Regions from separate parts of the Homo sapiens genome. Here region 1 is linked to region 2. Evidence: fine-mapped expression QTL. Tissue or cell type: whole blood. Region 2 holds a variant in brackets; the other region holds the start of a gene. All regions are shown on one strand. Distances are between the middles of the regions.

The links. PIP is the estimated chance that this variant, and not a neighbour inherited with it, causes the effect.
Region 1: STRIP1 starts here. The variant in region 2 is fine-mapped to the expression of STRIP1 in whole blood (TOPMed, PIP above 0.99).

Annotation. Positions count from the first base shown.
Region 1 is chr1:110,031,223-110,036,613 of GRCh38, reverse strand. It overlaps STRIP1 (striatin interacting protein 1), which reads right to left and starts at 1,990. Exons shown (of 21, transcript NM_033088.4): 1 at 1,797-1,990. The coding sequence starts at 1,976. It overlaps LOC105378895 (a long non-coding RNA gene), which reads left to right and starts at 1,175. Exons shown (of 3, transcript XR_947693.3): 1 at 1,175-1,205; 2 at 3,183-3,265; 3 at 4,177-4,318. RefSeq lists silencers at 1,396-1,465, 1,706-1,925 and enhancers at 1,926-2,315, 5,328-5,391.
Region 2 is chr1:110,057,375-110,063,310 of GRCh38, reverse strand. ALX3 (ALX homeobox 3) reads left to right here. Exons shown (of 4, transcript NM_006492.3): 3 at 1,748-1,876; 4 at 2,270-3,441. The coding sequence ends at 2,578. Among named protein-coding and RNA genes, the nearest start is that of ALX3, 10 kb to the left of the region's middle. The variant C/G (reference allele first, on the strand shown) is at 2,890.

The DNA of each region.
Region 1 (5,391 bases), 26 kb after region 2:
GATCAGGCTCCCAAACTACCGATTTCAGCTATGACTAAAGAAAGATCATGGCATCAGACTCTCTATAAAGAAATGGATTTAGACAGGTCTCTGCTTAAATGTGTCCATTTGACTGGTCTTTCATGTAATGAGTCTATGAGGAAATTTTTTTTTTTGAGACGGGGAGAGTTTCGCTCTTGTCACCCAGGCTGGAGTGCAATGGTGCAATCTCGGCTCACTGCAAATCTCCACCTCCCAGGTTCAAGCAATTCTCCTGTCTCAGGCTCCTGAGTAGCTGGGATTACAGGCACCAGCCACCACGCCCGGCTAATTTTTGTATTTTTAGTAGAGACAGGGTTTGATCACATTGGCCAGGCTGGACAGGAACTCCTGACCTCAGGTGATCCGCCCGCCTCGGCCTCCCCAAGTGCTGGGATTACAGGCGTGAGCCACTGCACCCGGCCTCTATGTGGAAATTAAAGGGTACAAAGAGAAATTACAATTCGTCAGAGGGTATCTATTTGACCATTCGTAGCTACTCTGGAAAATTTTAAACCATTTTTCAAAATGATAACTCCTCTCATGATGAAGGTAGGTTCACCCCCCTGCACTTTCGTAATCTTCCACTTGAAAAACTGAGTAGTTAACACTGATGTCCGTCATCCCACCATGCCAGGGCTCCTAAATGGTCAGTGTTTTTGTTTTTTTCAAATAATTCACTCCAAGCTCAAATTACGTCTACTTCGGGCTTGCCAATTGTTGACATGTTTTCTCAGGGGTTTAGCCTTGCTAACAAAAAATAAAAGCTTCTGAGGAACTGATTCCACAGGTCTAAAGGTAGTATCATTGCTCTTTGGTATGAATTGGTACATTATGCTTGGACAACTAGGAATTCCCTCTCATTAACTTGGCTGATCAGTTTGGCTGCTGATCAATCTAGGAGATGGCATAGTAAGTGCTCTGGGAACCTGCTCATTAAGAAGCCCTAAAACTCCGCGACATGAGTATCTTCATTCATGAATTCTGCAAAAGGAGGCAGTGGGAGGAATTCCTTAACTTGGGGTGAGGTTACTAGTCAGTTCCAGACTATGCCATCTCCAGAACGGCAGGAACGGCTCACTAGCGAGACAGGAAGGAATGTTGGGTCCTAACGCATGCTTAAAATGTCTATTTCTCATCTTTAACAGTTCAGTATCAGGCGCACTGGGCACAATAGCCCACCACAGGTACTGTTAACCCATGGCCTGATCTGGCTCAGGTCAGAAGAACAGGACATGTTTCCCCCTCCTACTCTACTCTCAATGATAATTAGCTCGGTCCGGCTCTAAGTTCCTTCCAGATCCTCGCCGGCGCCTTCCCTGCCCACACGCGCCTTCCTCTGCGAGCGGCAGGACCCAGGAGCTGGAGCCCGCGTGCCAGGGACAGACGCCCGAGATGATTAGGTTGGGGGCGCGGCAGCCCAGCGCCCTGGAGTGCACCAAGACCCCCGACTCCTCACCCCCGAGCTGGGGCGAGAGCGGCTTCCCCAGGGGCTAGGGCCTCGAGGCCACGCCCACAGTCGGGGCCCAGGGGAGCAAACCAGCAGTCGCCGGCCACGGGAAGCTCTCCCGGGCGGCGGAGCTAGAGCAAGGACTCATGCTCCAGACCCCAGGAGCTGCCAGCCTCGCTTCCTGCTCCTTTCGCTGTATAGTGACAGTTCTCGGCCGGACTCTACCGAGCCCTCCGGGAAGCCCAACCTGGCCCCTAGAGTGGCCCCGGGCCCGGGACCCCCGGCGCCGCCCGACCCGGTGCGAGCCTCGCCCCCCGAAGCTCCTGACCTCTGAGTCTTTGCGCTGGTTGCGGTTGAACTCGCGGGCTTTGCCCCCAGGCAGGAGGCCCGCGGCGGCCCGCGGTGCCCCGGGTGGTGGCTGTGCGGCTGCCGGCGGCGGAGGTGGCGGGGGCTGGGGCTGTTTGTTGTTCACGATCAGTGGGCCCGGACCGCCGACTGCCGGCTCCATCTTGGCTGCTCCACACCCCCAGCTTAACTCGCGCACAGCCGCCGTGATGCAACTCTCGCGTGATTTTCTCCAGGAAATTTCCCTGGCCGCCATATTAAGTGTGGCGGCCAGTGTTAGAAGCCATCTTGGCTGACCAATACCTCGCGATATTCTGTCTGCAGTCCTTCCCTTGTTGATCTTTTTAGTTTTCCACCTTCCTTTCAGTTTCAGTTTAGATGTAATTTTATCTGTGAGGCTTCCCTTAGCTTCTTCAGTCAGTTTAGTTACCCCTCCTTCCTCTAAATCGCTTTGCACTTATAACTCATAGCCTTGTTCAAGGCTTAGGCGGAATTTTGTAATGAACAAAATGGATAGGATCCTAGTCTTCACAGAGTTACCGTTGTGACAAGTGCTTGTCATTCATTCATTCAACAAACATTTAATAAATGTCTCCTGTGCACCAAGCAGTGGGATAAAATGAGGAACAAGTGTCTGCAGTCACGGTACATAACAGTGCTTGGTGGGTCAGACAAACAATAGACAAATATAGAGAAATAAATGCTGAAAAGTGTTAAAGGAAAATTTGTTCATGGCACTAATTAAAGATGGTAAGGCAGACTTTATGTAAGAGAGCCCATGGTGATAGTTACAGGGACCACTACAACCAGATCTTGCAGTGAAGAAGAGGAATTAGACTCAACTCTGACTCCAACAAGATATAGTGGGGATTTATAACCAAAGAGCAGGATGAGGGTCAGTGGACGGAAAACTACTAAGAGAAACATCAAGGATAAGAAGTTTCTTGCTAAACTGACCTAACAGGATTATTGCTGAAAGCAGGACAGGGTGCTAAGATGTTGAGGGTGGTCAGATACCGAGTGCTATGGTTTGACTGTGTCCCCCAAATTCCATACGTTGGAAACTCAATCCTAAAGTTCATATGTTGATGGTATTTGGAGGTGGAGCCTTGAGGGGGTGATTAGGATTAGATAAAATCGTCAGGGTAGGGCCCCTGTGATGGGACTGGTGGCTTTATAAGAAGAGGAAGAGTGATCTGAGCTGGCACACATGCTCTTGCTTTCTCACCGTGAGAGGCTCTCTACCATGCAGTTTAAGAAAGCCCTCACCAAATGCAACCCCTCGACTTTGGGCTCCCCAGACTCCAGAACTGCAAAAAATAACTTTCTTTCCTTTATGAATTACCCAGTGTTTTGTATTCTGTTATAGCAACAAAAAATGGATTAAGACGCCAAGAGTGGAGAGTCCCTGCACAAACTGGATTCAACAAGGACAGAAAGGAAGCCCAAACGGTTAGTCCTAGTAGGCAGAGGACTCACAGGAGCCTGACTAGAGTTTTGGCCAAAGAAGAGAATCTTTGTCAGAAGTAACAAAAATTGAGAGGTTAAAAGGTGGCAGTGGGGCGGGGGGCAGGGGTTGGTGGAGGCGGAGAATGTGGCTATAATATAAGCATGCTGCCCAAGGAAGGCAGGCCTGAGGGTGTGATTTTAGATGAGTTCTGAAAGAAGTGAGGAGAAGCCCTGCAAAGTTCCAGGAAGGGCACACAGACAGATGAAACAGCTAAATGCAAAAGCCCTGATGTTAGTGTCTGGAATTGAGTGAGCCAAGGGAGGGATAGTAATTGATAGAGCCATATAATGATAATGCAGGGACCAGAAGAATGCAGGGCCTTGAAGGTAGTGGGAAGGAGTTTGAATTTTATTCTAAGTGAAATGGAAAACCATTCGAGGGTGTTAACCAGGGAGATGTTATGGTGTGATGTTTACAAGTTCAATCTGGCTGCTTTTGGAGAAGGGATTGGAGAGTTGCAAGAGTGGATAAGGCAAGACATGTTAGGGGACCATGTAGATGGAGATGATGGTGCTTGTACCAGAGTGGAGCATTGGGTTGATATTTCTATATTGTGTAGGTAGGGGGACAGGATTTGCTGGAATCTTATCAGCTGGGTAGGGGAAATAAACAATGACCCCCTTGATCTAGGTTTGGGCAACTGAGTGGATGGCTGTATCACTTTCATAAATAAGTAAGCTCGAGAGTAAGAAAAACAGGTTTAGAGGAAAGATCAAGACTTCAGTTTTGGACACATCAAGTTTGAGATACTCATCAGACATCTTAGAAGTGTTGCGTAATAATAACTCTTACTATTATCTGTTGTTATACTGTGAAATCCTTAAAGGCATTTTATCCATCTTTGTCTCTCCAGCTTTACATATTGCCTGCTTTACACCCCAGGCTCAAGTCCAGAAAGTCCCTGTGATACAACTCTCCAGTGATTTCCCCTGAGGTCCAACCTAGTAGGTGCTTAAAAAGTCTTTGTTGTAAATTAATAAATTAATCCAAAACCACCACACTGCTATTTCCTCCTACCTATCTTCCTGTGCCTATCATAAGCTGTATCACCCGGGGAAAAACATTTTTCAGCTAAATTTAGAACAGGGAGGGTTTTGGTTCCATAATTCCACTTCTAGTAATAGATTCTAAGGAAATAATCAGATTTAGATAAAGATAGGTGTATGATAATATTCAGGCAATGGTGTTTTCAATAGTGTAAAGTTGGGATCAACCTAATTTGAAAAATAGCCAATAAGAAAATGGCTAACTTTGAGGGGCCAGGCACCGTGGCTCATGCCTGTAATCTCAGCACTTTGGGAAGTTGAGGTGGGAGGATCGTTTGAGCCCAGGAATTTGAGACCAGCCTGGGCAACAGAGCGAGACCCTATCTCTAAAAAAAAAAAAAAAAATCAAATTAAAAAAATTTTTGAAAAAGAAAAATGGCTAACTAATGGAATGGGGCATGCATAAGACAGAATATACAGATCTAGAAGGAAAAAGAATCCCAAATGTGAAGGAGCAGAAGCACAGCTGGAGAGCTCACTACTCTAACTTGCTAGGAAACTTTGCGAAAAGCACAATCCAGTAGAGAGTAGAAGCTGTAGAAGTGTCTTCATGCACTTCTCTTTTTTTTTTCCTTCCCCATCTGTAAAATGAGAATAATCCCACCTGTATTTTTGTCAGAGATGTGTGAACCACAGCAACTCCATCTTGAACAGGGGCTGGGTAAAATGAGGCTGAGACCTACTGGGCTGCATTCCCAGGATATTAGAGCATTCTTAGTCACAGGATGAGATACGAGGTCAGCACAAGATACAGGTCATAAAGAACCTGCTGACAAAACAGTTTGCAGTAAAGAAGCCAGCCCAAACCCACCAAAATCAATATGGTGATGAGAGTGACCTCTTGTCCTCCTCACTTTTACACTCCCACCAGCACCATGACAGTTTACAAATGCCATGGCAACACCAGAATGTTATCCCAGATGGTCTAAAAGGGGGAGGCATGAATAATCCACCCGTTGTTTAGCATATAATCAAGAAATAAGCATAAAAATGGGCAACCAGCAGCCCTCGGAGCTGCTCTG
Region 2 (5,936 bases):
GGCATTCAAGGCAACCCCAGATGATATAAGCCATGGGAATCAGGACCATGGAGTCACCTCAGCAGGCCTCCGGGGTGTGGTCTAACCAGCTCTTCCCAAAGCAAGTGTTTGTGGGAGGTGGAGAGCACTTCCTCTGCTCCTCTCCTAGGCCTTTTCAACCTGAGAGGGTGCAGGAGTAGCCATGAGGCCCTCACCCCTAGTCTAGAAGCTTCCTGAAGGATGGAGACCCTGGAGTAGGAATGTTTTCTCTGGCAGGGGTGTGAAACCCACCCATACACCCTGCCCTATGGAGAGGAAGAATGAGACTACACACCAGATAATGCAGAGGGCAGGTCCAGAGCCCAGGGGAGGCCTACAGCGGGATCCCCAAGGGAGAATGGGTGGTGACAGAAAAGTGAGTTCCAATAGCCAGATTCACTGGCTGTAAGCTCCCTCATCCTCTGTCAGGGGAGGGAGAGCAGAGAAAGGAAATCCAGGCAGCTGGGCAGGTGGGGGTGGCCTTTTGCTGACCTTGCTGCAGGCCTGCTTTCTTATCTTGGCAATCTGGGAGCTAGGGGGATGGGGTATGCACAGCCCCTTCACTGTTGGTGCCTTACCTGCCTGCATGTGTAGGAATGACCATGGGGGCAGGAAGCCTGATCCCAGCTGGGGTAGACGGATTACTCCACACACACACACACACACACACACACACACACACACACACAGCTTTCTTCTGTTGTGACTCCCAGCTAGATATCCCTGGAAAGCAGGGGTTGTTTTGTTTGGTTGGTTTTATTTTGACATTGTTAAATTTAGCTTAGAGGCTGACACATAAATGTTGATTAAATGATAGAAATACAAAACATATATACCAATACAGTTAAATGTAACAGTCACAGCACATATACCAAACAACGAATTCATCACAGATATGTACACAGATGTGCACAACACACAGATGTGCCACCCCTATCTGCCAAGGGCTCACAAATAAATGGGAGAAACAGATTCCAAAACAGATCATGGTAATGGAATGGGGTGAGTACAAAGAGAGGTCCAGGGTATTTTGGAAGTCCTGTGGAGGATGCCCAGTGTGGATGTATGTGTTGAGGGGATGAGTAGCCCAGGAAGAGAAAACCTAAGCAAAAGATGGAAGGAGCAAGATAGCAGTGTTTCAGAAGAGCTGGGCGGGAGCTTGGGAGGCAACCAGAAGAATAAATGTGTTTGCCTGGCAGGATATGAGGCTGTGCAGAGAGGCAGGGGCCTTGTTAAGAAGCTATGCTCTGGACCAAGGTCTCCAGGGAGTCACTGAGGGTTTAAACAGGACCATGACCTGAACAGAAATGTCTAAGATTCCTCGGATGCTATGAGGTGGGTAGCCTGGAAAAGGAGATGAGGCAGGGAGACTAGAAACCCAACACATGTACACAGTATACCCAGGAAGTACCTAGGGCCCCTGAGGCCCACAGATGCCCCCACAACACCCTTACTAGACACAGCCAGGCTGGAGGACCACAGTGATTCAACCTGGGGAGTGACAGCTGGAGGCCCATGGGGCCAATTACCCACTGTGGGCTTGGGCCTCTCCCAGGCTTCCTCCCAGGCTTCCCTGGCCTGGAGAACAGTGTGGATTAACAGTTGAGATCCTCCATCCTGGAGCCTGCTCCCCATCCCACAAGAGGACACAACCATCAGCTCTCCCTAGCAGGCTCCTTTCCTCAGGGCTGCCCTATCACCCCCTCAAACCCCCACAACCTGCCCCCAGGTCTGGTTCCAGAACCGCAGAGCCAAGTGGCGGAAGCGCGAGCGTTATGGGAAGATCCAGGAGGGGCGGAACCCCTTCACGGCTGCCTATGACATCTCTGTGCTGCCCCGTACTGACAGCCACCCTCAGGTAAGACCCCAGCCCTACCTGAACCAGGACCTGGCAGGGTCACCAAAAAGAATATGAGGTCTGGCCTGAAGAAACCTGGAGAGCGTCAGCGTTCTGTATGACAGTGGGTACACCACTTCACTTCTTTCTCTGCAAACCGGGGCTCTTGCCTGTCTCATGAATGACGCATGCGGAACACAAAGGAATCACAGAAGAAAATTTCGTTTTGAGAACAGTGGCAGGGGCCTCCTGAGATGCCACTGCCAGTGTTGGGGGTGAGAGGGGGTAGATCTGAGCCAAGTGGAGGTTTCCTGGAAAGTTTCTGGGGCCCCAAGGACAAAGAGAAAGCCCCTGGGTAGGGAAGTCAGCTCCTGAGGCTACAGGCTCATGGGCCTTCTTTCCCTCTCTTTTCAGCTGCAGAACTCCCTGTGGGCCAGTCCAGGATCTGGGAGCCCTGGAGGCCCCTGCCTTGTGTCTCCAGAGGGCATCCCCTCCCCATGCATGTCTCCATATTCCCACCCCCATGGGAGTGTGGCTGGCTTCATGGGGGTGCCAGCCCCTTCTGCGGCTCACCCTGGCATCTACTCCATCCATGGCTTTCCCCCCACCCTGGGGGGCCACAGCTTTGAGCCTTCCTCAGATGGTGACTATAAGTCTCCAAGCCTCGTCTCGCTCAGGGTAAAGCCCAAGGAGCCACCCGGCCTTCTGAACTGGACCACGTGATCGGTTGCATGGACCTGCAGAATGAGCTGCCCACCTCTTTTTCCATTCCCAGTCGCTCCCAGCCCACCTCTGCCTCCAAGCCCCAGATGGTTCTGGAGGCTGCGAGAGCAGCTGGCACTGTCAGCCCCCAGCAGGGAACACGTTACAGGGTCTTTTCTCTTAGAACAAGGTGGGGCTGCCTAGGAGAAGGGGCTTCGAAGCAGCCAGGACTCTTCCTACCACAAACTGAGTCCCCTCACCTGAACTCTGGGCTGGAGGCAGGGAGACACTGCCCTGCTTCCTCCAGACTTTGTCCAAGTCCATTGTCATCT[C/G]TCCAGCTAAGACAGCTTACTTGGCTCATCGTTCAGGGAACCCAGGAAAATGGGAGGAGAACGCCGCGTGGACTGAAGCTCTTCATGATGAGATGGAAACCAAAAGGGAGTCTCCCATGATGGGGTGGAGTCAGCCCTGCTTCCCCTCCCCACCAGCAGGGGGCGCACTGGTGTCTGACACTAAGGAGGGTGTAAAGGCCAAGGTCAGCATAGACTGAGGCACACTGGCTCCTCAGCTCCAGCCACCCTCACTCCTGCCATGTGCCTGCACTCCCAGCATGCCATGCAGTCATCTTCCCCTCCAAGGGGGCAGAAATTCCACCAGAAATCACCACATATTTGGAATCTCTTCCACGGGACCAGCCCAGAGCTATGCCATGGAAATGATATTGGATGTTGGTAAGAATAAAACAGATTTCTACAGACTGAGATCCTGATCCCCATTTTTGTACAGACACTTTTGTGTTTTTTTTGTTTAAAAAAAAAAAAAAGGAGAGAGAGAGAAAAAAAAGGCTGCCCAGCATTCTAATAAAGGTGGTGGTGTTTTTTATACCAGGTGACTGTCTATCCCCAGGGCTTGGCACTGGTTGCTTTGGGGCTGGTCTGTGTCCAGGATGCAGGCTGGCCACGACCCCTGAGAGGCCAGCAAGGAAGGGGAAGGTGGTCCTGCAGCAGAGCCCTCAAGGCCGATGCATGCCAGGCTGGGCTCTGTCACCTGCCTAGGGTCTCTGTGGCTTTGGCTGTGCTGGGAGGCAGGGAGAAAAGCTCAGCTCTAGGGCTGGGCTCATGTGGCAGGGAAAACTGAGGGTGGGACTGGCAGTAAAAAAGCTAAAATAATTTTGTGGCTAAACTGACAATGGAAAGGAGGTAGAATGGAAGAAAGGGGTGCCCACTGAGGTTCTGTGCTCCCCATGGGCTGGGACCCCAGGGTGGTGGGAGTGGGTCAGCTTCCTTCCAGATGCCCCAGGAAATGTCTGAGCTGTGGGGCAGAGACAAAAGCCAGAACTCTTTCTTGTGGTTTCAGAGTATTACCCATTCTATCCTTCATCCTCACTTTCTGCCTTATCTCCGAAGCCTGGAAGGCAGGAAAAAGGTCTGGCCCTCCCACCCTCCCAGTAAACACAACCACATTGCTCAGAAGAATTCAGCCTCAACCAGCAGCCCGGCCACCCCCACCCCACGCCTCATCTTTCAGGCACAGAGAAACCCAAGCCCACAAAGACACATCAGGGCTGAGCTGATTCGAGAGGAGGGGGTGAGTCCCCCACCAGATCAGATTTCCCAGCCAAGACAGTCGCATGTATCCCCAGAGGAGTCTGTCTTCCCTCCCTTCCTTCCCCTTCCCTCTATACAAGGGTCTGGCTTTTGGTGATTTCTTTCCTCTTGGTCTTGACGCTGGCTCTGAGGTCCACAGGTGTGAGCCCTGTATCCGGGAGGGGACCCAGCAGAAAGAGGAGAGTCAGGGTAGGAAGGAGAGACATCCCTGGCTGCCACTGATGAACAGAATCTCCTTCACCTGGCCAGGCAGTAATGAAATTGGGGCTCAAGCCAACCATTCTGACTCCAGGGCTCACACCACTGTATGAGAAGTTTCTTCATCCAAGGAGTCATCAGCAAAGTTTTGGACCTTCTTCCCCACCAAGTCAGAAAGATGTATAGAGAGAGTAGTTTGTTCTACAAACATTTTTGAGTGCCAACTCAGCCTGGCAATGTGCTGGGTGCCAGAGATAGAGCGATGGTTGAGGAAAAATATGATTCTTCTCTCTTGAGAGGGCTTAGAAATATGAAAGGAGGGAAGAGGAAAGGATCTGTGATAAACCCAAACAAAGAAACCAGAAGTGGGAAGAGACAGGAGAAAAAATAAAGGTGAGCCAGAGGTCAATGAAGCAAGAGTGGGAGAGGCTGGCAGAGGCCAGGAGGGGACCCATGGCGGGGTCGGGGGCTCCTAGGGGAGGGCACAGAGAGGCCAGAGACTGGCTACTGGCTCTCATCCAGGGGCATCTGCCCACAGCTCATATTTTTCTGTCCAGTGACAGCTAAATGAAGAGAAAGCTAACTTTACAACCGCCCACTTCACATATAATGAATATGAATGGGTATCCCGGAGCCTGTTTTGTGGGATTGTCTGTGAGGTGACAGGTCCTCCTACTTACTGGGCCATCCCAGCCAGCCTGTCCCCTGCCTGGGGCATGAGCAGCCCTTCCACCTGCTTCTCATTAGCTGTGTCCCTCCTCCTCCCACACACCCCTAAGACACGGCCCCGTCTCCAGATAACCCTGCCCTCAGCCTCACTCCAGAGCTAACCTCAGACCTCCGCCCAGGCCAGTGGTTCCTCAAGGCCAGGCCTGTGCTCTGGCCACTCCTTCTGGGAAGGGAAAGGGGAAGTGGCCCCTCCTGAAATCCCAGCTCATTTTGCTGAGGCTCCTGTCTCCCCCAGAGAAGATGCCAGAGCCCTAAATCTTGGTCCTGGCAGAAACACGGACACCAGGTCAGGACTGGAGGGCCACAGCCAGGGGGCCCATCAGTCTAGTCTGCCCACCTCAGTCAGCAGCTGGAAATGCTTCTCATGCAAGGCATTCAATCCTCCTTCCCCACCTCTCCCATTTACACTTCAACCTGAATTACAACCCCAAAGTGCAGACCCTCTGCAGCTCCAGATGGGAAGAGTCTAGCATGGCCAGGAACTGGGAAGACCCTAACATTTCCTTTATCCAGCAGAGGAAAGACTTCCCCTGCCCCAGCCTCCTCCACAGGCTCATCCCAGGCATTTCACCTGGAAGGTGGTGAGCATCAAGCGTCAGCTGTCAGAGCCCTTGATTCTGATGCTGGAGCCCCCTTCCTTCCCACTTAGCGACTGCTGGCTCCCCCAGCAATCTCTCCTCCAATACTAAGAGGCTGGGACCAGTGGGACCTGTGGTAAGCCCTTCAGACGTCTGTTACCTATCATGCTATTGCTTTTACTTGCTCTTATGGCTGTGTCTCCATCAACTGCGAGCTCGAGAGAAGTGAGAGAGTGTGGTATCCTAGTAACCTGGATATCCAGGGCA